Linked DNA regions of Homo sapiens. The protein of the gene in region 1 interacts with the protein of each later gene in a pairwise test. Each region holds a gene or a part of one and is shown on either strand. Other genes may lie near its edges. The genes, in order: ARRDC2 and EPN2.

Region 1 (15,735 bases):
AGGGGTAGTGAGGGGCGAATGAGACCATAGGGCTGAGATCTGCGGCCGCCTCGGTGCCTCCCCAGCCACCTCCGCCCCTGCCTGCTTCTGATTCAACAGCGCCGACCCTACAAAAACAGGGCCCGCCCATCTCCGAGGATGGCAAAGTCAACAGTGCGGGCACGCGGGCGGCCAGTCCCCGGCGGCCCGCGTGCGTCACGGGGGCGGATGCAGAGGACCAGGAAGTTCGCCGACGACGCGCCCGCCCTGGGCCACCGGCGCCGGCCCAAGTTCGCCGGGGGGGCCCGGAGGAAGCTTGGGGGACGCGACGGGGGAACGCGGAAACCCCGGGGATCTGCAGGCGCGCCCGGGCCGTGTGCCTTCTCTCCGCGTGTCCAAACCGTGTCCCCAGCCGCGCGCCATGCGCTCTGGGGGCGTGCGCAGCTTCGCGCTGGAGCTGGCGCGGGGCCCGGGCGGCGCCTACCGCGGCGGGGAGCGGCTGTGCGGCCGGGTGCTGCTGGAGGCGGCGGCGCCGCTGCGGGTGCGAGCGCTCGAGGTGAAGGCGCGCGGCGGGGCGGCCACCCACTGGTTGGAGGGTCGCAGCGTGGGCGTCAACGCCGTATCCAGCGACTACGCGGCCGCGGAGACCTACCTGCGGCGTCGGCAGCTGCTGCTCCGAGGTGAGACACTCGTCGCGCCGCCCCCGCAGCAGCCGGGACCCCCTCGGCCGCGACCCTCTTCAGGGCCGGAAGCCTCTCAACTTAGAACCTATGCGGTCGGGTGATCCTTTTCAAGGAGGGGGAAACCCCCTTCCCGGGGTCCTGACCCTCCCACAGGTCAGGAGTTCAAGACTAGCCTGGGCGACATGGTGAAACCCCATGTCTCCAAAAACTACAAAAATTAGCCAGGCTTAGTGGCGCGCGCCTGGAGTCCCAGCTACAGGCTGAAGTGGGAAGATCGCTTGAGCCTGGGAGGTAGAGGTTGTAATGGGCTGAGATCGCACCACTGCACTCCAGCCTGGACACCCACCCCGCCCTGGTCAGGACCCCCACTAACCGGGAACGTCTACCCAGGGTCTGGGTGTTCCCTTCTCTGGAGCCAGACTCCCTCAACTTAGACTGTGCGGTGGGGAGACCCCTTTCAAAGCAGGGGGACCCTCCTATTAGAGTCCAGGAAACCCGCGGGAAGTAGAGTGGGAGATCTCCCTGGTGGACCCCAGTGTCCCCGTTGATCCCAGGCCTGGAGTCCCTGATTCTCAGAGAAGGCCCCCAACTCGTGTTACCCAGGGCCCCACCTCAGTTTACCCCACAGGGTCTGCAGCGCTGAGTTCTTCCCTGGGGTAGGGTTGGGGGTCTGGTGGTATTTCCCGGTGAGGAGGTGGAAATGCATCCCAGAGGGGAAGAGATGAAGTGGGGTCACATTCTCCTGGGAGTCTGGGTCTTGGGCAGGTCCCTACTCTTCCCCGAACCTCAGTCCTTCTCGCACCCCAAGCGCCCCTAGGCCACGCAGCTGGTCACCAGCGAGCCAGGGGTCACAGAAGGAGGCAGTCCATACCCTCACACCCTACTGTGTGGCTGCGGGAGGGCATCATCCTCTCTGGGCCGCCCTGGCTATTCCTCCGGGCCAAGCCAGACCTCACTATACCCGTCTGTAAAATGGGCCGGGAGGGAGGCAGCTCAGATTCTCGACAGCCCCACTTTTTTCCCAGCGCTGCGGGCAATAGAAGTTTTGGGCACACAAGAGCCACAGGTGCGGGGGACCCTTCCCTCCCCAGCGGTGGAAACAGAAGCAAGTGCGGTGGGGCAGGGCAGGAAGGGGCCCAGGAGGCACTTCCCTTCCCCGGCGACTCGGAGAACTCTTGGGACCGCTTTCACCCGAAGGCCGGCCCAGACACTCAACGGCGACTTCCTTAAAACACTGGAGAGGCAGCCGGGTGCGGTGGCTCACGCCTGTAATCCCAGCACTTTGGGAGGCTGAGGCGGGCAGATCACCTGAGGTCAGGAGTTCGAGACCAGCCTGGCCAACATGGTGAAACTTTGTCTCCACTAAAAATACAAAAATTAGCTGGGCGTGCTGGTGGGCGCCTGAAATCCCAGCAACTCGGGAGGCTGAGGCAGAATTGCTTGAACCCGGCAGGCGGAGATTGCAGTGAGCTGAGATGGCACCACTACACTCCAGCCTGGGCAACAGAGCGAAACTCCGTCTCAAAAACAAAAACAAAAACAAATAAACAAAAAACACTGGAGAGGCGAGCCTGGTGGGTCCACCTGTGGTCCCAGCTATCACAGAGGCTGAAGCGGAAGGATTGCTTGAGCTAAGTTAGAGGCCAGCCTGGGCAACATAATGAGACCTCCCACCCTCCACTCCGTTTTTGTGTTTGTTTTTGTTTTTGAGACAGGGTCTTACTCTGTTACTCAGGCTGGAGTGCAGTGGCACGATCTCGGCTCACTGCAACCTCTGCCTCCCATGTTCAAGTGATTCTGCAACCTCAGACTCCTGAGTAGCTGGGACTACAGGTGCCCGCCACCACACCCGGCTAACTTTTTGTTTTGTTTTGTTTTGTTTTGTTTTGTTTTTCTGAGACAGAGTCTCACTCTGTCACCCAGGCTGGAGTGCAGTGGCGCCGGCGCAATCTTGGCTCACTGCAACCTCTGCCTCCCAGGTTCCAGTGATTCTCCTGCCTCAGCCTCCCGAGTAGCTGGGATTATAGGTGCCCGCCAACACGCTGGCTAATTTTTGTTTGTTTGTTTGTTTGTTTGTTTGGGGGACGGAGTCTCCCTCTGCTGCCCAGGCTGGAGTGCAGTGGCACCATCTCGGCTCACTGCAAGCTCTGCCTCCCGGGTTCACGCCATTCTCCTGCCTCAGCCTCCCGAGCAGCTGGGACTACAGGCACCCGCCACCACGCCCGGCTAATTTTTTGTATTTTTAGTAGAGACGGGGTTTCACCATGTTAGCCAGAATGGTCTCGATCTCCTGACCTCGTGATCTGCCCGCCTCGGCCTCCCAAAGTGCTGGGATTACAGGCATGAGCCACAGTGCCCGGCCAATTTTTGTATTTTTAGTAGAGACGGGTTTCACCATGTTGGCCAGGCTGGTCACGAAATCCTGACCTCAGGTGATCCATCCACCTCGGCCTTCCAAAATGCTTGGCTTACAGGCATGAGCCACCATGCCCGGCCCCCATCTCTTTAAATACATAAAAATTGGCTGGGCGCAGTGGCTTATGCCTGTAATCCCAGTACTTTGGGAGGCTGAGGCAGGAGGATCACTTGAGGTCAGGAGTTCAAGACCAGCCTGGCCAACATGGTGAAGCCCTGTCTCTACTAAAAATACAAAAATTAGCCGGGCTAACTTTTTTTTTTTTTTTTTTTTAGGCGGAATTTCACTCTTGTTGCCCAGGCTGGAGTGCAATGGCATGATCTCGCCTCACTGCAACCTCCACCTCCCAGGTTCAAGTGTTTCTCCTGCCTCAGCCTCCCAAGTAGCTGGGATTACAGGCATGCGCCACCACACCCGGTAAATTTTGTATCTTTAGTAGAGACGGGGTGTCTCCATGTTGGTCAGGCTGGTCTCGAACTCCTGACCTCAGGTGATCCGCCTGCCTCGGCCTCCCAAAGTGCTGGGATTACAGGCGTGAGCCACCGCGCCCGGCCAAGGTGGGCTAATTTTTAAATTCTCCCAGCTACTCAGGGGGCTAAGGCAGGAGAATCGCTGGAACCCGGAAGGTGGAGGTTGCAGTGAGCCAAGATGGTGCCACTGCACTACAGCCTGGGTGTCAGAGCAGAGTGAGACCCTGTCTCAAAAAAAAAAAAAATTAAAATTTTGGCTGGGTGCAGTGGCTCACACCTGTAATCCCAGCACTTTGGGAGGCTGAGGCGGGCAGATCGCTTGAGCTCAAGAGTTCAAGACCAGCCTGGGCAACATGGTGAAACCCCATCTTTACAAAAAATACAAAAATTAGCGGGGCATGGTGGTACACACCTGTAATCCCGGCTACTCGGGAGGCTGAGGTGGAAGGGAGGCAGAGGTTGCAGTGAACCTAGATCGCGCCACTGCACTCCAGCCTGGGCAACAGAGTGAGATCCTGTCTCAAAAAAAAAAAGAAAAGCAAATTTAAAAAAAATTTTTTTTTTTTAATTGATCATTCTTGGGTGTTTCTTGCAGAGGGGGATTTGGCAGGGTCATAGGACAATAGTGGAGGGAAGGTCAGCAGATAAACAGGTGAACAAAGGTCTCTGGTTTTCCTAGGCAGAGTGTTTGTGTCCCTGGGTACTTGAGATTAGGGAGTGGTGATGACTCTTAACGAGCATGCTGCCTTCAAGCATCTGTTTAACAAAGCACATCTTGCACCACCCTTAATCCATTTAACCCTGAGTGGACACAGCACATGTTTCAGAGAGCACAGGGTTGGGGGTAGGGTCACCGATCAACAGGATCACAAAGCAGAAGAATTTTTCTTAGTACAGAACAAAATGAAAAGTCTCCCATGTCTACCTCTTTCTACACAGACACGGCAACCATCCGATTTCTCAATCTTTTCCCCACCTTTCCCCCCTTTCTATTCCACAAAACCGCCATTGTCATCATGGCCCGTTCTCAATGAGCTGTTGGGTACACCTCCCAGACGGGGTGGTGGCCGGGCAGAGGGGCTCCTCACTTCCCAGTAGGGGCGGCCGGGCAGAGGTGCCCCCTCACCTCCCGGACGGGGCGGCTGGCCGGGTGGGGGGCTGACCCCCCGACCTCCCTCCCGGACGGGGCGGCTGGCCGGGCAGGGGGCTGACCCCCCCACCTCCCTCCCGGATGGGGCGGCTGGCTGGGTGGGGGGCTGACCCCCCGCCTCCCTCCCAGACGGGGCGACTGGCTTGGCGGGGGCTGACCCCCCACCTCCCTCCTGGACGGGGTGGCTGCCGGGCGGAGAAGCTCCTCACTTCCCAGACGGGGTGGCAGCCGGGCGGAGGGGCTCCTCACTTCTCAGACGGGGCGGCTGCCGGGCGGAGGGGCTCCTCACTTCTCAGACGGGGCGGCCGGGCAGAGACGCTCCTCACCTCCCAGACGGGGTCGCGGCCGGGCCGAGGCTCTCCTCACATCCCAGACGGGGCGGCGGGGCAGAGGCGCTCCCCACATCTCAGACGATGGGCGGCCGGGCAGAGACGCTCCTCACTTCGTAGATGGGATGGCGGCCGGGAAGAGGCGCTCCTCACTTCCTAGGTGGGATGGCGGCCGGGCAGAGACGCTCCTCACTTTCCAGACTGGGCAGCCAGGCAGAGGGGCTCCTCACATCCCAGACGATGGGCGGTCAGGCAGAGACGCTCCTCACTTCCCAGACGGGGTGGCGGCCGGGCAGAGGCTGCAATCTCGGCACTTTGGGAGGCCAAGGCAGGCGGCTGGGAGGTGGAGGTTGTAGCGAGCCGAGATCACGCCACTGCACTCCAGCCTGGGCACCATTGAGCACTGAGTTAACGAGACTCTGTCTGCAATCCCGGCACCTCGGGAGGCTGAGGCTGGTGGATCACTCGAGGTTAGGAGCTGGAGACCAGCCGGGCCAACACAGCGAAACCCCTTCTCCACCAAAAAAACCAGTCAGGCGTGGCGGCGCGCGCCTGCAATCGCAGGCACTCGGCAGGCTGAGACAGGAGAATCAGGCAGGGAGGTTGCAGTGAGCCGAGATGGCAGCAGCACAGTCCAGCTTCTGCTCGGCATGAGAGGGAGACCGTGGAAAGAGAGGGAGAGGGAGACCAAGGGGAGAGGGAGAGGGAGAGGGAGCTTAAAAATTGTTAAATTGTTATACATTTAAGGAAAAAACAGTGACACTGGAGGGGCGAGGCCAGTGGAGGTGCTGTGTGACCTCGGGCAGAGCCCCACCCATCTCTGGGCCTTTGGGGTCCGTCTGCGAAATGAATTGAGGGAGGCGCTGGCTCAGTAGTCCCTTCAGGGTTACCTAATCCCGCTTCTCCTCCCGGACTTAACGGCCTACTGTCTCCCCTCTAGTATCCATTGAAACCTGGCCTAAGGTCCCAGACCTTCCTTTCAACTCCAAAGACCCATCCTCCCAGGCAGCCTTCCAGGCTGATCACTGTGCCTCCAACTCCGTCGTTCCTGTTCCGATCCCCATCACGGGCTGAGGGTGACCGTGTTTGTTTATGACCGCCCCCTCCACCCACACACCTCACTGAGGTGGTGGAAGTCTCCTGAGCCAGGCTCAGAGGCGGACAGTCACGGCAGGGGATGGGTTCAGCGGCAGCGCATTACGCTGCCACGAGAGGGCGCCAGCGTCCCGCAGACGACGCAGAGGCAACTCCCGCTGGAGAAACTCCATGCGACTTTTCTTTGGGGAAACTGAAGCCCAGAGAGAGGTCACGCCGTCCCGTGGCCACACCGCAGCTGTGGACCTGGGGGTGCCCGAGCGTCCCCTGCATTCAGCTCTGTGGCGGGACGGGGGCTGAGGATGACTGGAGCAGGCACAAGGGCTGCGGGGAAGGTAGGGTTTGCCAGAGGCTGAAAATTGGGAAGGGAACATCATTTCGTAGGTACCGCTCCTGGGCGAATGCGCCGAGGCGCGACCGAGTGACGGTATGTCAAGAGCAGGTTGATGACCCGGGAGCGAGGCTCTTGGAGGAGTCCAGCTGGGGCTGCACGATGATCCATGCACAACCTTCTGAGGTCAGGACTGATTTTTACTTTCTCCCGGCTCTACAGAGGTGGAAACTGAGGCTCCAAGAGGTTGTCATTTGCCCAGAGCCACCAGCTAAGCGGGACTTGAATCAGGAAAGGGGTGCAGCAGGCACCAGTGTGGAGGGCGGTCCCACCCACCTCCTCCACTTCTCCCTTTGCATAGCGGGGGAAACAGGCCTGGAACAGTCATAGGCTCTCTGGCCCTCAACTGGGGCGAGAGTCCCCCGCCCCAAATCGGGCTGGACATGCCTCGAGTCACGTCAACGAGGGGCGGCTGGTGAGTGATTAAGCCGAGAGGCTGAAGGCTCTGCTAGGTGACCTCAGGCCTGGGCCCTGCCTCTGCACCTCTTTTTTTCCTCTTTACCCCCGGGGTCCGCGAGAGACCAGCTCTGGCAGCCTAAGGGCTTCAGTTTCTCCCCGGGGTCCGCGAGGGAAGGGGGCAGCCGGCGGTGAGCAGGGGCGTTTGTTATTTTGCTCCACGCCTGGGCAGAGCCACGCCCCTTGTCGCGCTATTGGTGGAGTCCCTTCCCGGGGCGGGGAAGAGACGGTGACCCCACCCCCCCCCGCCCTGCCGTATAAAAGCGGCGCCGACGCACGGCGCGGGGATTTTCTGCTCCGGTTGGTGAGCGCGCCTGCGCGTTGACGGCGATTTTGCGTTCTGAGGCTGCAGCGTCGGCATCTTGAGCTGCCGGTTCGCGAGTTCGAGGCCAGGTTCCGCCTGTCGTGGGTTCGCACCCCGGACGCGATGCTATTCGACAAGGTGAAAGCGTTCTCGGTGCAGTTGGACGGCGCGACCGCGGGCGTCGAGCCCGTGTTTAGCGGCGGCCAGGCCGTGGCGGGCCGGGTGCTGCTGGAGCTGTCAAGCGCCGCGCGTGTGGGTGCCCTGAGGCTGCGCGCGCGGGGCCGCGCCCACGTGCACTGGACCGAGTCGCGCAGCGCGGGCTCGAGCACGGCTTACACGCAGAGCTACAGTGAACGCGTGGAGGTCGTGAGCCACCGCGCCACGCTCCTGGCGCCAGGTACGGATGGAGGACCCCTGCTCCAACACCAGTTGTGTGCCTCCCACCACCTGGACGGCGGTACCTCCGTCAGCCCTGGGACCCCAGCGCAACCGCTCAGTCGCCTCCTTTTTCTCCTACCTGCAGATACCGGGGAGACCACGACGCTGCCTCCTGGGCGCCATGAGTTCCTGTTCAGCTTCCAGCTGCCCCCGTAAGTCCTCTGGGGTGCAGGGTTGCCCTAAGCCTGCAGCCCCTTCCAGATTGGTACCTCCAATACTGGATATCTGGGCACCTCTGAGCCCCAAGACTCTCCCCCTGGGAGGCCCCCGGAGTGTCTGTGTCTCCTTCTCCCTGCCTGCTTGTCTCTGTATCTTGTCCCCTGAAGTCCCGTCCCTCCACCCTAGGACCCTGGTGACATCCTTCGAGGGCAAACACGGTAGTGTCCGCTACTGTATCAAGGCCACCCTGCACCGGCCCTGGGTCCCAGCACGCCGGGCAAGGAAGGTGTTCACTGTCATCGAGCCTGTGGACATCAACACGCCAGCCCTGCTGGTGAGTGGCCACCCTTGGGGAGGTAGGTTGGGAGTATTGTAGGAAGGGGCCTGCCTGGCTGCTGGGCGACACCAACCAATAAGATGGAGGTCATAGGTGGGCCCTGGCAGGGAGGGAGGCAGGTGTGGGAATGCGTGTGGAATCCACTGGGATCTGCACCCATTTGCCGTGTGACTCTGGGCAAGTGTCTTGAAGCCCTCTCTGAGCCTCAGATGCCTCTTCTGTGAAATAGACCAGAGCTAGGGCTTACCAAGTGTGAATTACACACCAAACACTTGGCTTATACATTTCATTTCTGGCTTTATAAGATGGGTTGTGTTCCTGGCTCTATTTAACGGATAGTTCCTGGATTGTTAAAAAGAAACCAAGCCCTGCCCAAAGTCCTCCCTCAGCTGGGGGTGGTTTGGAAGCTCCACAGCGACTGTGGTTTGCACAAAGTGACTCATCCATGTCACTTTCCTCTACACCGACAGGCACCTCAAGCGGGGGCTCGGGAAAAGGTTGCCCGATCCTGGTACTGTAACCGTGGCCTAGTCTCCCTTTCGGCCAAGATCGACCGCAAGGGCTACACCCCAGGTAGCAGGCGGACCGGACTGGGTTGGGACGGGGGCTGGTGTTGGGGTTGCAGGAGGGGAAACTGAGGCCCCACTGCTCCTTGCTGCAGGAGAGGTCATCCCTGTCTTTGCCGAGATCGACAACGGCTCCACACGTCCTGTGCTGCCTCGGGCAGCCGTGGTGCAGACACAGACGTTCATGGCCCGAGGCGCCCGAAAGCAGAAACGGGCAGTGGTGGCCAGCCTCGCGGGCGAGCCGGTGGGCCCCGGGCAGCGGGCGCTGTGGCAGGGCCGGGCACTGCGGATCCCCCCAGTGGGTCCTTCCATCCTGCACTGCCGCGTTCTACACGTGGACTACGCACTCAAGGTAGGGCATCCTGCTGGCCCTGGGGGACAGTGCCTACATTCACCCTGTATTCCCTCAGACTGGGGGAAGCTGAGGCCTCAGTCTCCCCAGGCATAGGAGGGAGGTGGGGGTTGGGGAGGCTGCCTGGGCACCCTCCCTTATGGTTCCTTCCTCCAGGTCTGTGTGGATATCCCAGGAACGTCCAAGCTGCTGCTGGAGCTGCCACTGGTGATCGGCACCATTCCCTTGCACCCTTTTGGCAGCCGTTCCTCCAGCGTGGGCAGCCACGCCAGCTTCCTGCTGGACTGGAGGCTGGGGGCCTTGCCGGAGCGGCCTGAGGGTAAGCTCCCACCCTGCTTGCATGCAGAGGGTGGGTGGATACACGGAGAGGTGGATGCCGGGTCAACTCTCTCACCACGAGTCCCCCGGAATCCCAACCAAAGGACATACAGCCTGGCAGCCCCAGAGCTGGCACAAGCCAGCTCCTGGCCCCTGGTCCCTTGGAGCAGGGCTCTCTCCTGCCAACCTCACCCACCCTGTCTCTCGCTTCCAGCTCCTCCTGAGTACTCGGAGGTGGTAGCCGACACTGAGGAGGCAGCCTTGGGGCAGAGCCCCTTCCCGCTTCCGCAGGACCCCGACATGAGCCTTGAAGGCCCGTTCTTCGCCTACATCCAAGAGTTCCGCTACCGCCCGCCACCCCTGTACTCTGAGGTGAGCTCAGGGGTCTGAGAACCACCCATGCCTCTCTGGGCCCTGGGAGCCTTGATGGGGTGGCAGACATAGTAGATGGGTTTTTTTTGTTTTTTTGTTTTTTTAGACAGGGTCTTGCTCTGTCACCCAGGCTGGAGTGCAGTGGCATAATCATAGCTCACTGCAGCCTCGACCTCCCGGGCTCAAGCAATCCTTTCGCCTCAGCCTCTTGAGTAGCTGGGACTACAGGCACACGCCACCACATCCTGCTAATTTTTGTGTTTTGTTTTGTTTTGCTTTGCTTTTTGAGATGGAGTTTCAGTCTTGTCACCCAGGCTGGAGTGCAATGGTGCGATCTCAGCTCACTTCAACTTCCGCATCCCTGGTAGAGCGATTCTCCTGCCTCAGCCTTCCGAGTAGCTGGGATTACAGGTGTTAGCCACCACACGTGGCTAATTTTTGTATTTTTAGTAGAGACGGGGTTTCACCATGTTGGTCAGGCTGGTCTTGAACTCCTGACCTCAGGTGATGGCCTGCCTCGGCATCCCAAAGTGCTGGGATTATATGCGTGAGCTACCACGCCCGGCCAATTTTTGTATTTTTTGTAGAAATGTGGTCTCACTGTGTTGCCCAGGCTGGTCTTGAACTCCTGGGCTCAAATGATCCTCCCATCTTGGCCTCCCCAAAGTGCTGGGATTACAGGCGTCAGCCACTGTGCCCGGCTGGCAGAGGATTTTAATTGTTGACAGAATTTCGCTACATACAGTCGGCCCTCTGCGTTAGCTGGTTTGGAATCTGCAGATTCAACCAAACATGGGTCAGAGACATTTGAAAAATAAATACATACATGGATAATACAGATTAAAAATATGATAGGCTGGGTGCGGTGGCTCATGCCTGTAATCCCAGCACTTTGAGAGGCCAAGATGGGAGGACTGCTTGAGGCCAGAAGTATAAGACCAACCTGGGTAACATAGCAAGACCCCCATCTCTACTGCAAATAATACAAAATTACCCAGGCTTGGTGGAGCCCATCTATGATTGGGAGGCTGAGGCAGGAGGATCGCTTGAGCCCAGGAGTTTGAGGCTGCAGTGAGCAATGATTGTGCTACTACATACTCCAGTCTGGGAGACAAAACAAGACCTCATCTCAATACTACTACTAATAGTAATAATGCAGTATAACAGTGATTAAATAGCATTTATATTTTGTGTGTGTATATGTGTATATATATATATATATATTTTTTTTTTTTTTTTTTTTTTGAGATGGAGTCTTGCTGTGTCACCTAGGCTGGAGTGAAGTGGCACAATCTCGGCTCACTGCAATCTCCACCTCCCGGGTTCAAGCAATTCTCCCTGTCTTAGCCTCCCGAGTAGCTGGGATTACAGGCATCCACCACCATGCCCAGCTAATTTTTGTATTTTTTAGTAGAGACGGGGTTTTGCCATGTTGGCCAGGCTGGTCTAGAATTCCTGACCTCAGGTGATCTGCCTGCCTTGACCTCCCAGAATGCTGGGATTACAGGCGTGAGCCACCACACCTGGCCATAAAGTATTATAGGTAATCTAGAAGAGATTTAAAGTACACGGGAGGGCTGGATGCAGTGGCTCATGCCTGTAATCCCAGCACTTTGGGAGGCTGAGGTGGGCAGATCACTTGAGGTCAGGAGTTTGAGACCAGCCTGGCCAACATGGCGAAACCAGGTCTCTACCAAAAATACAAAAATTAGCTGGGTGTGGTGGCATCCACCTGTGATCCCAGCTACTCACGAGGCTGAGGCAGGAGAATCGCTTGAACCCAGGAGGTAGAGGTTGCAGTGAGCCGAGATTGCGCCACTGCATTCCAGCCTGGGTGACAAAGCGAGACTCTGTCTCGAAAAATAAAATGAAATAAAAATAAAGTACACAGGAGGATGGGCTTAGATTATCCGCAAATATTATGCCATTTTATATCAGGGACCTGAGCATCTGTGGATTTTGGTATCCACGGGGTTCCTGGAACCAATCCCCTGTGGATACCAAGGGACGGTATACACTCAGCTCCAAAACCCTCCTTGCACCCCAGTCTGCCCTAGACACCACCTCCTGATGGCCTCATCCCTGGTCAAGGGCGGGAGTTGGGAGATGGCTAGATGGGGAGCGGTATTTCTGAATTTCTGTTTCCAGTGTTCTCTGAGGCTTAATGGGAACATTTCTCTTAGGAGGATCCAAACCCACTCTTGGGGGACATGAGGCCGCGCTGCATGACTTGCTGAACGGCACAGGGACCCCTCGAGGAACAAGGTTGCACACCAGCTTTCAGCCACCATGACTGTGGGGAGTGGCTGGACCAAGGGCTGACCTCCCCGACTGCATCAAAGTTGGGGAACCAAGTCTCAGAGTGAGGCGGGGGCCTTTCGGATATCACATGGGACAGAGGAAGAGCCCGGCTGGAATCTGACTTACCTGGACCGCTGTCCTTGTGAGGCATTGAATGCCCAGTGCAGTATCCGAGAGACTGTTTAATAACCTGTCTTCCCAGCCAATTGGTGGTGCTGGAATCCCCTAGGAGCCTTCAGTCTGGGAGAAACAGAGCCAGACATAGACAGTTCCAGCATCACAGAACCAGAAGAAGAGACCTGCAACTGTGAGAGTCCAGACAGGAAGCAGAGAAGGCGTCCTTGCGGAAAGGGCATTTTAGCTGAGGCTTTGGAGTACGAATAGGAGCTCAGCAGGCAGACGAATGAGGAATAAAGGTCAGAGAAGGTCAGAGCTGAGTGACGTTTGGAATCCACCCCGTTTATTGTAGAACTGGGGGTTCAGAGGGCAGGTGCCTCAGAGTTGAGGCCACACAGTGAGGTCTGGTGGGTGAAAGGACCCAGGAACGAGGCGTTCAGGAAAGCAGGTTGTCAGAGCTATGTGGAGTCTGTGGGTGGCAGGGGCAGCCGCTCCAGCCTTTGAAGACTTTGAAAGCCAGAGATTCCTGGCGCAGGCTTGGACTTCCTGGGAGCTCCTCCAAGTACCCAGGGGCATCAGAGCTGCCTGGGTGTTACATGGCCCAGGGAACCCAGGTTCAGGGTAGGACAGGCAAGACCAGATACCCAATGTGCAAAGTGAAAACACTGGGCTCCCTGTTAAACGATGAAGAATTCAAGACAGTGACAGCATTACGTCACCCCTGGGGACAGAGGTCAGCCTAAGGTGACACACGGGGACTACTGTGCTTCCGGAGGCTCCCTGTGTCCTGGAGGAGAAAAGCATTAGAGGGGGCAGCTGGACAAGCTCCCAACTGCAGAGTCCCAGCCCTGGCTGGGGCAGGGCCCCGGCCTGGGACTCAGCATTTCTGATATGCCTTAAGAATTCATTCTGTTTTGTACAATTATTTTTTAAAAGTAAACGTGTGGAGAAAGAATCCGGGCTTCTTGGTTTATTTCCGCCCCCGATCTGGCTGCTGAGGGAACTGGGACTGCCATCCCTGGTCACTATCTTGGAGACTAAATTCCTGGCCAAGGAAGGCAAAGGGGCTCATGATTGAGAAGGGGAAACTGAGGCCCAGGACTGGGAGGGGGTTGGTCCAAGGACATATGAGGAGGCTGAGCTGGGGTGGGAGCTGAGCCCTGGGCCCCATACCTGCACCGCCTATCGGAGTCTCAGAGGCTGGCGGGGGCTGAACAGTGGAGGACAAGCAGAGAACTCTATCCTCAGAGAGTGGGGAGCAGGGGGCTGGGGCTGGGAGGAGCCGCCTGAGTACGGGAACATCCTGTCATCTGAGTCTAGGTTTGGTTTTTGTGGGTTTTTTTCTGTTTGTTTTTGTTTTTCAGAAGGAGTCTTGCTGTGTCGCTCAGGCATAGTGTAGAGTGTAGTGGTGTGATCTCAGCTCACTACAACCTCCACCTCCTGGGTTCAAGCGATTCTCCTGCCTCAGCCTCCAAGTAGCTGGGATTACAGGTGCCTGCCACCACACCCGGCTAATTTTTGAATTTTTAGTAGAGACGGGGTTTATTTTTTTTTTCTTTCTTTCTTTTTTTTTTAAGACAGAGTTTCGCTGTGTCACCCAGGCTGGAGTGCAATGGCTTGGTCTTGGCTCACTGCAACCTCCGCCTCCCGGGTTCAAATGATTCTCCTGTTTCAGCCTCGAAAGTAGCTGGAATTACAGGCATGTGCCACCACGCCTGGCTAATTTTTCTATTTTTTTAGTAGAGACAGGGTTTTACCATGTTGGCCAGGCTGGTCTCAAACTCCTGACCTCAGGTGATCTGCCTGCCTCCGCCTCCCAAAGTGCTGGGATTACAGGTGTGAGCCACCATGCCTAGCCCTGGATTTGTTTTTATTGAGGTGAAATTCACATATTGTAAAATTCACCACTTGAAAGTATTCAATTTAGTACACTTTACAATGTAGCATTTAATACTCATAATGTTTCTTTTGTTTGGTTTTGAGATGTTCTCACTCTGTTGCCCAGGCTGGAGTGCAATGGCCCGATCACAGCAGCCTCAAGAGATCCTGGGCTCAAGAGATCCACTTGCCTCAGCTCCTCGAGTGGTTGGGACCACAAGTGTGTACCACCACACCCAGCTAATTATTTTTTTGTAGAGACACGATCTCCCTTTGTTTCTCAGGTGGGTCTTAAATTCCTGGGCTCCAGCAGTCCTCCCGCCTCAGCCTCCCAAAGTACTCGGATTACAGATGTGAACCATCACAACCGACCTGGCTATTTACGATGTTATGCAACCATCACCACCATCTATTTCCAGAACATTTCTATCCCTGCCAAAGGAAACCCTGTCCCCACTAGTGATCAATCCCCATTCCCCTTCCCCCACCTCCAGCAACCACTTTCTGTCTCTGGATTTGCCTATTGTGAACATTTCATATCAATGGAATCATGCGGCCTTTTGTGTCTGGCTTTTATCACTCAGCATGTTTTCCGGGTTCATCCACATTGTACTATGTGTCAGAACTTCATTCCTTTTTCTGGTTGAATAATATTCCATTGTGTGCGTAGACCACATTGTGTTTAGCCATTCATCCGCGGATGGACATCTGGGTTGTTTCCACGGCTTGGCTATAGTGAATCTTGCTGCTAAGAACACGTGTGTTCAAGGATTACTTTGAAAACCCACGGAGCTGTTAGGTGGCCCTAGTGGCGTGGGGCTGTTATTCTTCTGGAGTTACAGGTGGGGATAGTGAGCTCAAGAGAAAGAGACTAGCCTGGCCAACATGGTGAAATCCTGTCTCTTCTAAAAAGAATACAAAAATCAGTGAGACGTGGTGCAGGCACCTGTAATCTCGGCTACTTCGGAGGCTGAGGCAGAAGAATCACTTGGACCCGGGAGGTAGAGGCTGCAGTGAGCTGAGATCATGCCACTGCACTCCAGCCTGGGTGACAGAGTAGTGAGACCCTTTCTCAAAAAAAAAAAAAAAAGAAAAGAAAAAAAAGGAAATAAGAAAGAAGGGAGGGAGGGAGGAGAAAAGAAGAGAAAAAAAAAGAGAAAAGAAAAGAAAGGGGGGAGGGAGGGAGGGAGAGAGAGAGAGAAAGAGAAACAAAGGGAAGAGGAAGGAAGGGAGGGAGGGAGGGAGGGAGAGAGAGAGAAAGAGAAACAAAGGGAAGAGGAAGGAAGGGAGGGAGGGAGATGCTCCACTTGGGTCCCACAGTCAGGACTGAGACGGCCAGCACTCAAAACTGCCCCTTGGGCCAGGCACAGTGGCTCACACCTGTAAATCCCAGCACTTTGGGAGGCCAAAGCAGGAGAATCGCTTGAGCCTAGGAGTTTGAGACCAGCCTGGGCAACATAGCAAGATCCCGACTCTACAAAAAAAAAAATATATAAAAAATTAACCAGGTGTGGCAGTGTGGACCTCTAGTTCTAGCTACTCAGGGGGATGAGGTTAGGAGGATCACCTGAGCCTGGGAAATCGCGGCTGCAGCGAGCTATGATCGCACCACTGCACTCTAGCC
Region 2 (13,632 bases), on another chromosome or scaffold:
TTAAAGAACAGGGAAATGCACATCAAAACCACAATCAAATAACTTTTCAGCCCACCAGATTGGCACACATGGGAAAGTAAGCTAATACTAAGCATCAGAGAGGTTATGAGGCAACTCCTGGGGCGGCAAGACTGGCACCCACTGCTGGATGGAACATAAACTCGTGCCACCATGTGGAAATAGTTGTAGCATTCCTTGGTGAAGGCAGAGGTACCCATGACCCAGCAACTCGTGTATACATGTGAACAAGAACAAGCAGCAAAACCAAACGAGTATCCTTCAACAGAGGAATCATGACTTTTTTTTCATAGAATGGAACAAAACAAATTCCAGCTCCACCTCAACACAGATGACTCTCTCAAATAAAATGTGGAGTGAACAAAGCCAGCCACAAAGGAATGTGTACAGAATGCTTCTATTCATATAAAGTTCGGAAAATAGGGACTTGGCATGGTGGCTCACACCTGTATTCCTAGCACTTTGGGAGACTGAGGCAGGAGGATTGCTTGAGCCCAGGAGTTTGAGACCAGACTGGGCAACACGGTGAGACCCCATCTCGACGAAAATTAGAAAAAAAATTAGCCGGGCGTGGTGACATTCCTGTAGTCCCAGCTACTTGGGAGGCGGCGGTGGGAGGATCGCTTGAGCATGGGAGGTGGAGGCGTAGTGAGCTGTGATTGCACCACTGCACTCCAGTCTGGGTGACAGAGTGAGACCCTATCTGATAAATAAATGAATACACACACATATTTAGACACACATACATATACATAATATATATGTGTGTGTGTATTCAGAAAATAGGCACAACTAACTAAAGGTATCCCTACAAGATAAACTAGAAGGAGAAACAAGAGAAAGGCTAATAAACAGTTCATAATGGTTGGGGTAGGAATGTCATTGGGGAGGCACTTTCTGGTCCCTGAGAGGCGGCAGTGGTGTCTGAACACTTGCAGTGCTCCGCGAGAAGGAAGGAGATGTTGGTTTTATTTTATATGTACTCATGTATACACAAATCTGTGTCTATACATAAAGATGCACATCACAGCGTTGACACTTAACATTAGATGCACTCAGATGTTTTAGTTTTTTTGTGTGTGTTTTTTCTTTTTTTAAAAATTTTTTTCTCTGTTTTTTAAAGCCAGTTGTGACCCACTAAATTGATTTTGTCACTCCCTGTTTGAAAGTGTTTTATTGCTTAAGTTGGGTGGTAAGTATGTAGCTGTTTGTTTTATTCCTTTTTATACAGGACTCATCCATTTATATATGCTTCTGTCAGAAAGCAGAAACCACTCAAAGCACATGGGGAGAGGATGCCTCTGTGCCTCTACAGAGCCTGGGCCGAGGTGGGAGGGCTGCCTGGGGCCCCTTGTCTGAGGAGGGAGCCTGGATTCTGTGGGGAGATAGGTTTGTTTCAGATAGTCCATCGAAGTGGGGTTGAGCTCAGGAGCCCTTTGCAAGCCCCCTGTATGGTGGGGAGCTTGGAGAGAACCTCTTTCAGCTGCTTCCTCTGGTCATTACTAGAGGACAGGGAGAGGTTATCCTGGGACATCCTGGCCTAGCATGCTTCCTTACCAGGGTTGTTGGCCCTGGGCCCCAGCTGTGTCCCTCTTTGCTGGCGTGGGACAGTACCCTTTTGATGGCTGTCTCACCTGGCACAGGGCATAGACCCTGGTGTGGCTGGCAGTATCCTTTTCCCTTCTCACCCCAGCTGCCCAGACCCTCTGAAGGCATTTCTGAGCCCTGACCCTGCCTTCCAACAGGTACCAAGCCAGCTGCCTCCATTGACCCATGGGGGGTGCCCACTGGAGCCACCGTACAATCTGTCCCCAAGAACTCGGACCCCTGGGCAGCTTCACAGCAGCCTGCCTCCAGTGCTGGGAAAAGAGCTTCTGACGCGTGGGGCGCAGTCTCCACCACCAAGCCCGTGTCTGTCTCTGGTGAGCCCCTCACTCACCCACTTTCCTGCCTGGCCTCTGAGCGCCCACGGGCCCTGCAGCCGCTCCTGGCTCCTAGGCATCAGCCCTGTTGCTTTGCTTGCATTTGCTCCCCTCCTCCCCCTTAGCCTTTGTTCCTGATCCCCAGATCCCAGGTGCCCCAGTGTGAGAGTGAGTGAGTGCGAGTTCCCAGGCTTTGTGCGCTGGTACCTCCCTCCAAATTGAGGGGGCTTCCACCTGGGTGTTGAGAGAGAAGACTGCCCTGGGCCCACAGCCTGTGGGTCCTGTCCTCACCCCTGGGGGGCTGGGCAGGCTGGCCTCCAGGCACTCCTTCTGGTGACTTCCTACAGACCCTCATCCAAGCAACCAGACCCAGCTTGATGCACCTCCACCACTGCCAGCACCCCTTTGCCTTTTGGGGTGAGGGTGTTAGAAGCAGTAGCAGGTGGGCATCCCACACCCTGTCCTGGGAGGCCAGGCTCCCTGTCTCCCCTCCCAGCGTGCTGGTGACCCCAGGCTGTCTTGCCTCTTTGGCTCTCAGAATTCTCCTCCATGAGGTAGGGTAAGCGGGGAGAGGCCCCTGTTGCCAGCCCATCCTGAGGGTGTGCACTGGGCAGTGGAGTTGCCATGAAGTCCTGTGAGATGCCCCCAGTCATTGGCTTCTGTGTCCACCCAGGGTCCTTTGAGCTCTTCAGTAATCTGAATGGTACAATTAAAGATGACTTTTCTGAATTTGACAACCTTCGGACTTCAAAAAAAACAGGTATGTACAGGTGATGATGGTTTCCATAATCCTCCGTGCATTTGACCAGCTGAGTTATTGCAGAAATAATAATCAGCTTTCAAAACCCTTCAGCTTCCTGCATTTTCTTTGTATTTTGATCTTGGGAGCCTGAAGTTTCTAATTCTAAGAATTCATACATCAATAGTTAAAAATCACAAGGTAGAGTCCCCCAGGACTATGTCTCCAGGTTAGGATCCCCAAAGCTTCCTGCAGATTCCACAGCCCCGGCCTCCTCAGCTCAGAGTGGGCCTCACCTCTGGCCTGATCCAGCATTTCCATTCACCCTCCTCCTGCCAATTTCCACTCCTCAGAGGGCCTCCTTTTCCCAGACAACCACCTTTGGGCATCAGTGGGGCCAGCCTCTGCCCTGTGTTGTCACCTCCCAGGTGACCGCTCCAGCCCAGCAGACCCACAGTCCAGTCTCCAGACCTGTTTTCCTTCCCTGTGTGCCTCTGGGATGGAAGGATATCAGGTGGATGCAGTGGGCCAAGTGGCCAGTGGGCCAAGGTGGGCCTGGAGGGGTGGAGGGAGAAGGCCTGGGATGCATTCTTCACACACCCTGTTTGGACTGGGGTGTGACAGCCTCTGTCCATCTCTGGGCCACATCTCCCAGCCACACATGGCAACTTCTCTCTTTTTTTCTTTCCTGTCTTGGCTTCTGCTGCTTGCCTCCCCCAATTTCCCTACCACCTCTATCCCAGTCTCTTCTTTTTCTCCCTTCTCTTTTATCCCTCCCTACCAACTGTAGCCACAAGCCTGGCTAGGCCCTGGTGTGAGGTACAAGCAGCCTGGCACCGTTGACCCTGCTCGACCCCCTTGACCTCCTCTAACCCCTCTCAGTTCAAGAGCTCCCAGCTGAGAGACCAGAGGCAGCTTTGAGAATGTGCTGCTTTTTTGGGTCTTTCCTTTGCTGCATTAATAAGATTCCATGTGTCTTCTCTGTAGGCCAAAGTATAGCCTAACCTGTCCTTGACTCCTGCTCCGTGCCTCAGTGAGAAGGCAGCGTGGCCATTGTTACATGTCAGCTTTTGAAACATTTATCCCCTGCCGGTGCAGTGGCTCACACCTGCAATCCCAGCACTTTGAGAGGGCCAGCGTGGGAGGATTGCTTAAGCCCAGGAGTTTCAGACCAGCCTAGGCAACATAGTGAGACCCCCGTCTCTACAAAAAAATTAAAAAATTAGCCAGATGTGGTCGTGTGCACCTGCCTGTGGTCCCAGCTAGTCAAGAGGCTAAGGCGGGAGGATCCCTTGAGCCCAGGAGATTGAGACTGCAGTGAGCCTTGATCGATCGCCCAGGCTGGAGTGCACTGGTGTTATTGGTGTTTTGTTTTTTTGTTTTGTTTTGTTTTGAGTCTTTTTTGCTCAGCTCATATTGTCAGATAGAGTTGTCCTGCCCCTTGCCTCAACTTTTGTGGATTAACAGATTGAAAACATCTTCTCATGACTTTAAAACTTGTTAAAAAATACTTTGTTGCTATATAATCTCTCTTTATATGGCTCAGCAACAATTCAATAATTTGGGGGAGGACATTTTAGGTTGATTTCAGGTTTTGCTACTGTAAATGATGCTGTTGTGAAACTCTTTGTGCTTATAACCTTGTTCACATTTTACATTATTTGCTTAGACCAGATTCCTAGAAATGGGGTTACTAAGTGAGAGAATGACTGTTGTTAAGAATTCCTGTACCGTGAAGCATCCCGTCGTGGCAATCACATTCCTACCGGCCTGGCTCAGCACAGCCTGTGTTGCCTCTATGGGCTGAATTTTAAAAGACACAATTTGCTTTCTTTTTACTATCAAGAAGTTCATGTTTATTGTGGAAAATTTAGTAAATGGAAAATGTAAGAAAAAAAAAAAAAAGTAAATTGCCCATGCCTAGCTTCCAACCCAAAATGACATCTTGGTATTCTGGAGGAATGAGCTATACACACTCTTTTATAACCTGCTTTAGTATTTTGATAAAGCTTTCTTTGCTTATCATTAGGTATTCTTCTGTTCCTGCATGCTGGTGTTTCGTTATGTGGACACTTGATTTATCTAACCCAGCCCATGACTGGCTGTGTGTCGTCACGTGGCGCTGTCAGGCAGGCATGTCCCCAGGAGGCCATGTTTTGTGTTAAGTACACAGTCTTAGGCTCTCCCTGCCACACTCACCCTGCCATATGTGTCCTTGTCTTGTAGCCGAATCTGTGACCTCTCTGCCATCCCAAAACAATGGAACTACCAGCCCTGACCCCTTTGAGTCTCAACCCCTGACTGTCGCCTCAAGCAAGCCCAGCAGTGCCCGGAAAACACCTGAGTCCTTCCTGGGCCCCAACGCGGCCCTGGTGAACCTGGACTCACTGGTGACCAGGCCTGCCCCACCAGCCCAGTCCCTCAACCCTTTCCTGGCACCAGGTAGGCTCTCATCCCAGGCTTCATCCATTGCCTGCTGTGCCTGGGAATGGGTGTGCAGCAGGCCTCTTGGGGGCTCTTCCCACTGTGTGACGGGGAAGGGGTGGGACTAGCTGGAATCTCTAGATGATTACGTATGCCCTCGCCAGTGCTGCATGGGGTGGGGTGTGGAAGCCGTTGTCAGTTATGTGGGGAGTGTATGGGTAGGAAATAGCTCCTCTCCTCTCAGTTGAGACTACCAAGCAGAAACTGTCCCTGACTTGGTGCCCCCCCAGTTGTGAGACCCTCGAGGGAATGTCAGTTCTAAGACAGGTGGAGTAGGGTGGGCTGCTGGGGGTGAGGAAGAGCCAGGGTTTGGCGTGTAGCATTCCTCTCTCGGGAAAAATGTAACTTAGCCCTTGGGTACAAGCCTTCCTCCAGGTCCCTTGCTTCCACTCCTGGTGCCAGAGTCTGCCCCCTGCCCTCAGGGCTCAATGTTGGCTGCCGGCCAAGCCCCCAGCTGTTCAATTGGGTATCCAGGGCCATTATGGCCTGGTCCCACCCTCCTCTTCCCTTCCTGTGTGCATGAAACCCTTGTGACATCCAGCCCCTTGGCGCCCCTCAGCCTGTAGAGCCCTTCCTTAAGCCCAGGCTGTTACACACTCAGTTTCCCCTGCCTGGAATGTCCTCCCTCCTCTTCCCTAATGAAAGCATCTTCCTCATCCTTTGACACCTAGCTCAGATGACTCCCTTCTAGGAAGTCCACCCAGCCCCCTTCCTCACGGGGTTTCCCCAAAGCCTTGGGCTTCCCCCAGGGCAGGAATGTGTCACCCTCAGGTGTTCAGCCCCAGGCTGGCCCCACCATGTAGGGATCTGAGGATCTTGGGCCACCGTCCCTGACAGTACCTTGCAGAGGAGAATTACCACTGAACTTACAGAGGCTGAGGTTGGGGACCCTTGGGCAGAGGTGAGGTGTGTGGAGTTACTGGGTCCTGGCCAACCCTGAGGTCCTGAGATGGGTGAGGACATGGCTGCCCCCAGGGGAGGTGGTTCCCTGGGTGGAACTAGATTAGTTTCCAGCCTCCTCAGCCAGCCAGGAGTCTGTGTCTGCCCCAGGAGGCCTTATGCCTCTTCTGCCCAGAGAGCCCTTGAAGGCCCTGCAGGAGCTCCAGTGGTCATCTGTGTCTGTCAGCTCTTGGTGGGCACCTGGCTGGAGGCCTGAGGCAGCTTTGTTGGCTGCACACCAGTCATGGTTCCTGGGGGCTGCAGCCAAGATGGAGGAGGTTTGGGCAACTCTGCTGGACATACAGGGCCATTCTCCAGGCCACACAGGGTAGGGCCAGGCTGCATGGGAGAGTTGGTGCCAGCAGCGCACACACTTTTGCAAAGAAAAGGCTTTCTGGTATGAGGTAAATTCTGGAGACACTGGGAAAGACAAAGCTGCATCAACTTCTTGACTGCAGGATTTCTAGCCTTCGCGGTGTCATATGTGGATCCCTGGGTGCATTGTGGGCACTGCCACATGAGCCACACACTGCCAGTCCCATGTCCCTTTCAGCAAACAAAATGAGGGAGCAGTGGTAGCTGATGGCTGGTGAAGGTGTCCTGGGTGCCAGCACTGCAGAGGAGCCAGGGTGCCCCGAGATGGGTGTGTTCCTGGCATGGCCTTGTTCAGCTTTGTGACGCTGGACAAATCACTTGGCTTCTCACAGCCTCAATCTCCTCATCCTTAAAGTGCAGATTCATGCAGTCAGCAGATATTTGCTAGTGTCTGCCATGGACTCGGCCGGCACTGTCACGGGCTCTGAGGGCACAGCAGGGACCAGAACACCCGCATGCAGTCCCTGACCTGGGAGCTCAGAAAGCCACACCCTGACGGCTCAGCCTCTGCCCCTCCTTCTGTCTCCCCAGGTGCTCCCGCCACCTCGGCCCCTGTTAACCCTTTCCAGGTGAACCAGCCCCAGCCGCTGACACTGAACCAGCTTCGGGGGAGCCCAGTCCTGGGGACCAGCACATCCTTTGGGCCTGGCCCAGGAGTGGAGTCCATGGCTGTGGCCTCGATGACCTCCGCGGCCCCACAGCCAGCTCTGGGGGCCACTGGTTCCTCTCTGACACCACTGGGCCCTGCAATGATGAACATGGTGGGCAGTGTGGGTATACCCCCATCAGCAGCCCAGGCCACTGGCACAACCAACCCTTTCCTTCTCTAGTGCCTGGGCCTGGGACCCACCCAGAGCACCTGTGCTGGAGGATGCCGAGCAGGGACTCTCGTCTGTGGGACGGGATCCAAGAGTTTGGGGATTAGGGGTATTAGGGCTTTTCAGCTCCAGCTTCCTGATGAAAGGGCTGTCTTTACAGCCCCAACCCTCAGACCCTCGCCTTCCAAGGCAGGCCCCTCAGCCTGGCCTGCTCTCACCACCTCCTCCAAAGCACTGAGGTCCTGGCAGGGCTCCTCTGAGGCCTTGGACGAGGACGTGGAGTCATCAGTGTTGCCCTTGCCCCTAACCTCAGCCCGAGGGTCTCCAGGATGTTGCCTGGCCCAGGACTTGGGACAGTGGCCTTGTCTTTGTCCTCCCCACCCCCCAGCCCTAGGGACACCCCAGGCAGTCCTGGGTGTGGACACGATGAAGCACCGGCTCCATAAGACACCTTTTGGGGAAGTGGTTGTGCATATTTTATTTTTCTTTGACTCGTGTGAGTTCAAAGTAAACACCACCACCGTGGACAACTCTTGAATTAAATCCACTAGAGCGAGCTTTAAAACTAATCTGAGCATAACCCCCAACGTGGCTCTATGCTTGTGTACCTTTGCACATATTTTGTTTAGTACAGTTTCATATTTGAGTTTGCAGAATTATCTAATAGTCTTTTTTTGGCTAATATTTTTATAACGTGGTTCTTATTTAACTGTCTAGTTTTGATAGAATTTACCAGGTCTGGCTGAATGAAGATGTTGGCACGTGTCATTTTAGTGGTTTAAATCCTCTTATTTATGGTTTTAACTCTAAGAAAATTTTAAAAGGAAGAGATGTTTGGATGACAAAAAAATGCCTTATTGAAAAACTAAAGCAAATTCTTTATAGGAAGAAAATATGGGAATTTGATTACACATAGATGATGATGTTTATTTAAAAAAAAAACAACAGCAACAAAAAATCCTAGCCTCCAGTTGCCTTTTCCTTTCTTTAGCTCCTGTTTTTGGTGAATTACTAAACTGATTGACTTTCAGCCTTTTTGGCTAGATCCTGAGAGGCTATTTTTCTTACGAATATACCAACATCCTGAAAGTTAAAGAAAAAAATCTAATGTATGAATGTGACTCACCAATTTTTATCAACTAATTCCTTTTTTTTATTAAAGGCATGCAGGGATTAACAGGACTTCTGTTTACAATGGAAATCTGAAATGGAAGAAACATCTTTAACCTTGTGTGTCTGTGATCTCCTCTGTCTTAATCCACGCTCAGGCTAAAGATGGGGATAATGTGGAAATGGCAGTTGTCCCGAGGGCGTGGGGTGGGGGGTGCTTCTGTGCCCACGGGTCCCTGGGCAACAGTCCCTAGGCTAAGACAGGGGTGGGGGGCTAAGGGACCAGGGCTGGCCCTGATCCACCTACCTGCTAACTCCAGATATTATTTTTAAGTTGGAGACCTAAAAATAATTCTCTTGTATTTTGGAGATGAAGAAAAAAGTCATTCACCTGGGAGGGATTTTTAACAAACATGCACTAATATTACCTCCCTCTTCCAAACTCCTACTGTCCTCACCTCACCCACCACTGTAAAAGTATTACGTCGTGCATTAAAGACCAGAAAAGACTTGCTTTTACCCAGGGAGGGGACATTCCCCCAATCCTGTGTCTGGGCAGCTTGCCTGGTGGATGTTTCTGGCCCTTTTTCCACCATGGGAATTTCTCACCTCTAGCTCTAAGGGCAGCTGACCACCTGCCAGCCCCTCTCTGGTTCCAGAAGATTACCCTTCGCACCGGCACAGGAGAGATCTTAAATGGTCTCTGGGCTGCTGGGACATGCAGGCTCTGAGTGGGGACTGCACCCACTCATGCTGTTCCTGAGGCCGCCCTCTCCAGTCCCAGGAGCCGTGTCTAGAGTTCCTGACCAGCCACCTTCTGCCAGAACTGCAGGCCTGCGGCTGGGTCTTAGGCTCCCGCTGCCATTTGGGTAAGCCGGTGGCTGGTCTCGTCTGCCGGGGGAAGGGTGGGGAGGTGCAATGGGATGGGAGGCAGGATGCTTGCCCAGAAAGGTGCTTTCCTTCAGACGGTGCAGGGCCTGGGCCAGCCTTACAGGTCAGTAGACTAGACTCGACTACTTGGGGTCAGTGATTCTTTTGTAACGAGTCTTTCATGATGTGACTTTGAGGCCCCAACATGACAGCCACTGGGCCACCGGGACCCAAGAAGACAGCCCCCTGCCCCATCTTCTGGCACAGGCCATCCCGAGTGCATGTCCCTGTTGCCCACTGCACTGATCATGAAGCCACCGGCCACTGCCACGCATGTTGCACCTGTGCCATCGTGCTCCCTCCTGATGGGCACCGTGGTGGAGGAAGTCACCCAGCTGTTTCTCAGTCCCAGAGGCCGGTGGCTGGTTTTGAACTTGTGTTGACTGTTGATACTTATTTACTGTATAAATATAATTTATCATTTGTACCATGATGCGGTTTCTGGCTGTGTCCTTCTCCCACCCCATCTTCATCAGTCCTGTGCCACTGGAGAGGTGGGAGATGAGGGAGCCGATTCTTGTGGAGCTTGGTCTGCAGTTATTGAGGCCACCAGCCTGGTCCTAGTGCCCGCGTGAGCTGGGCATTTGGTTGCCCCTGAACCTCAGGGAAAGGGGGTGGGAGGCGTGCCTTTTGTGAGGTGCTGAGACTGGTGGCCTGCACGGGTGTGCTGGGGGAAGTGCTAGCCACTGCCCTTTACCCTTCTGTGTCCGCCCTCTTAATGCGGCCTTGTCACTGGTGGAGGCTGCTTTGGATGAGGTGGAAGTGACAGTGTGCCGGGTCCCCAGAGGCTTCCTGTGCTCTGCCTCCTCTTGTGTCCATGCTGCAGAAGAGCTGCTCTGGGAAGCCACTGCCTGTCAGCTGAGGCAACAGAGGGAGGGAGTGCGTGGAGCTGCCCAGCCAACTGCGTGTTCCTGAGAGGAAGGGCCTGTTGGAGCCACTGGTTCTTAGGTGGCTTGCTGTGCAACAGCTGACCGACAGAGGGCCTGTGCCTCAGAGCCACCAACCAGACGAGGGCAGCGGCGGGAGGACACGTGCATCTCCAGGCAGCAGAGGTGGAAGAGGTGCTCTGGTCACGGGAAGAGGCAAGGCCGAGGCAGAGGCGGCTGGGAGACCCTGATGGGAAGGGTTGGAGAGGCCTTGAGACGAGCCTGGAGGGAGGTCTGGGACTGCCCTGCAGCCCTCTGCTCTCTGTGCAAGTGCCTGGCTCCTGGTGTCCACCCAAGGATAAGCAGACAAGCTTGACTCAGAGCTAGGAGGCTAGGGACTGGTGGCAGGGGGTGCCCGTTCAGTGCAGGGGACAGGAGAGAAAGAAGGGTGTGTGGGATGCTCTTGGTTACGCTGCAGTAACACATCTCCAGGTCTCAGCGGCTTCCCGCGGAAGTTTCTCACAGAAGTCAGTGACTCAGGGACTCAAGCCGCTTTCATCTTGAAACACTGCTATCTTTGACAGACAGCCCTGAAGGTGGCTATGAAGGGAAAAATGGACAAGGGTCAAGCATAGATTTCTTACAGCCAGGCCTGGAATTGCCTCACTGCCACTCACACCAGTGCCAGAATTAGGCCCTCGGCCCCCATCCAGATGTGGGGTGGGTGGGGATGGGCAAGTGCAGGCTTCCTTAGTGGTGGAGGGTGGGAGGTGGGGAAATGGGCTTGGTTAACATTGCCAGTCTCTATCACAGCGGACTGTCTGGCTCCCAGAGAGTTATTTCAGTCTTCTTCTCAAACATAGACAGTAAGGTCCTGTGTCCTGGGCTCTGTGGAGTACAGAGCCTTCTCCAGCAAGGCAGACACAGCCTATAAACTAGAAAGACCTATGATCTGTGCCCTTCCCCCAACAATAACAACAAAGCAGGGCAGGGGTCAGTACCCACAGTCCAGCTCCATTTGGAGGAGCAGAGAATGGGAGACTGCCCCACAGTGCTGGAAGCTGCCGCACAGACTGAGGTCGCCTTGCGGTGAGGAGGGAAAGGACCTGATGGTGCCCTGCTCTGGGCTCTGCCCCCTGGTGGGGAGCTGGCCTTTTTTGTATTCCCTTGGCTGCAGCTCTTGGGCCAAGCTCAGCTTTCTCACCTGCTGCCTGTGGGTGGATGGTTCCAGGCCAGGACCTGTTTTGAGTGAGCCAGAGGCTTCAGTCCAGGCTCATGGACTTTGCACACTTCCATCAAAAATGTGGCAATCTTTGTACTTCTAATCAGTTCCATGTACAAATAACTGCATTATTTTGGTCAGAGTGTTACTTTGGTGGCCCCTGATGGACCTTGTCTCCCAGTGTGGTCTCCGTCACCTGATGGGCGTGGCCATATGACTAGATGGGGCCAGTGCCATGATGGCAGGAGGGGCTTGATAAATGCCTGCACATGGAGCTTGACCTCTTGGCATGTTCTGCTGGCAGCCCACATGTCGTACTATGAGAACTTCAAACACATGGAGAGGCCACATGGGGGAGAACGGAGGTGTTCTGTCAGTAGCCCCCATGAGCCCCAGACAACAGCCCACCATGTGAGTAATCATCTTGGTCAGCTCAGTGGAATAGCTCTAGCCAGAATCAAGTGTAGCATAGCCACCCAGCTGAGCCCAGTCCCCTGTAGGATCATGAGTGATAAATGATAGTGGTTTTAAGTGACAAAGTTTTGGGGTAATTTGTTACACAGCAATGGACAACTCAAGCACACACATAAAATTCTTTCCTAGACATAAGCTGCCTTATTTCCTTGCTGCCTTACCTCCATGCTTCTCTCAATTTAATGGTAGCTACCATGAGGCCATCTGGGATCATGATGGGAGAGCCACCCCCTTAATTCCGTATTTACCAAAAGACCAAGTTATTTTGTTCAGATGAGAAGTTTTATTATGCCTTTATTGCTGAAAGCAATTTTGAATCTTACCTTTTCTCATTAGAGTTTGAGAAAGTCTTTTGCAACCTTTTGATGCTAATTTTTTTTAGATTGTTGCCTTTCATTTCTGCTTGCAAACTAGCCAGTTCTTTCCTCCTTACTGTGATAGCATTCCAAAATGCAGTCAACAGTAGCCAACTCACACTGCACATCCTATCTGGCCTGTCCCTTTCCCCTAGAGCTGCTGTCTCTGGGGCACATAACCTGCCTCCCAAGTTAGCATGAGAGTCTTAGCAAATGTCTTGTACTTGCATAATATAGATCTCCTGCTGTCCAGCTTATGAGCTGTATTCTTTTTGCCTGCCACGCAGCTGCTTAGCCAACAAGAGTTTGTTTTTTCTGTTTTTTGGCTACAGCAGAAACCCACTCCTGATTTTCATATCATTTGCAATAGAATAGGCTATGCAGGATCAAATAACCCCAAGCTCTCATTGGCTGAGCACAGTATCTTATGAGTGTTTCTCACTCACAAAAAGCCTAATGGAGATGTTCCTGGCAGTGCTCTGCAAGCTGGGGTGCCCAGACTCAGGCTCCTCCCTTATGATGCTGCTTTCTTCAATGTGTGCCTCAAAGGGTGCCATGGACAAGAACGAGAAGTGCTTGTGTGACCCTGAAGTGGGTCAGACCTCTCAGTGGTGAAGATCCTTTTCATACTTTGCTTTGGCTAGAACTACCCAAATGGACCCACCTTGATACAAGGGGCCTAGGAAATGTAGTCTTCTGGTGTGCCAGGAGAAAAGGGAGATAGGCTGGTCAACATGCAGCTTTGTGACACCGACAGCATGGACAGCAAGTAAGCGTGGACCTGCAGGCCGTATGCCTCGACTGTCCTCATGGAGGGGGTCCCACATGCCCAACCCCCCCCCCCCCCCGGCTTCCCGGGCACTCGCGCCTTCAGCCTCTTAAATCTCACTGCATCATCTCTTACCTTGACTGGGCAGGGATGCAAGGAGCTTTGTGAAGTGACAGTGACATTTCTGTGCCTTTGGGGCTGGGTTGTGCATTCTTTTTTGAGATGGAGTCTCCCTCTGTCGCCCCGGCTGGAGTGCAGTGGCACAGTCTTGGCTCACTGCAACCTCCACCTCCCGGGTTCAAGCGATTCTCCTGCCTCAGCCTCCCGAGTAGCTGGGATTACAGGCGCCCGCCACCATGCCTGGCTAACTTTTTGTATTTTTAGTAGAGACGGGGTTTCACCATGTTGGCCAGGCTGGTCTTAACAGTCCTGACCTCAGGTGATCCGCCTGCATCAGCCTCCCAAAGTGCTGGGATTACAGGCGTCAGCACCATGTCCGGCCTGGTTGTGCATTCTTAAAGTATTCTTGGCCAGGCGCAGTGGCTCATGCCTGTAATCCCAACACTTTGGGAAGCTGGTGCAGGCGGATCACCTGCGGTCCGGAGTGCAA

The links.
Region 2: the proteins of ARRDC2 (region 1) and EPN2 interact in binary tests that used the Homo sapiens proteins (3 or more experiments, as listed by UniProt).

What each region holds. Positions count from the first base shown.
Region 1 is NC_000019.10:18,000,915-18,016,649, forward strand, and holds ARRDC2 (arrestin domain-containing protein 2), read left to right. Parts: upstream 1-7,255; 5' UTR 7,256-7,396; coding exon 7,397-7,670; intron 7,671-7,796; coding exon 7,797-7,863; intron 7,864-8,056; coding exon 8,057-8,204; intron 8,205-8,677; coding exon 8,678-8,780; intron 8,781-8,868; coding exon 8,869-9,125; intron 9,126-9,281; coding exon 9,282-9,444; intron 9,445-9,657; coding exon 9,658-9,815; intron 9,816-11,998; coding exon 11,999-12,052; 3' UTR 12,053-13,188; downstream 13,189-15,735.
Region 2 is NC_000017.11:19,326,948-19,340,579, forward strand, and holds the end of EPN2 (epsin-2), read left to right. Parts: intron 1-1,763; coding exon 1,764-1,940; intron 1,941-2,613; coding exon 2,614-2,700; intron 2,701-4,905; coding exon 4,906-5,121; intron 5,122-7,008; coding exon 7,009-7,307; 3' UTR 7,308-9,768; downstream 9,769-13,632. UniProt on the Homo sapiens protein: Plays a role in the formation of clathrin-coated invaginations and endocytosis.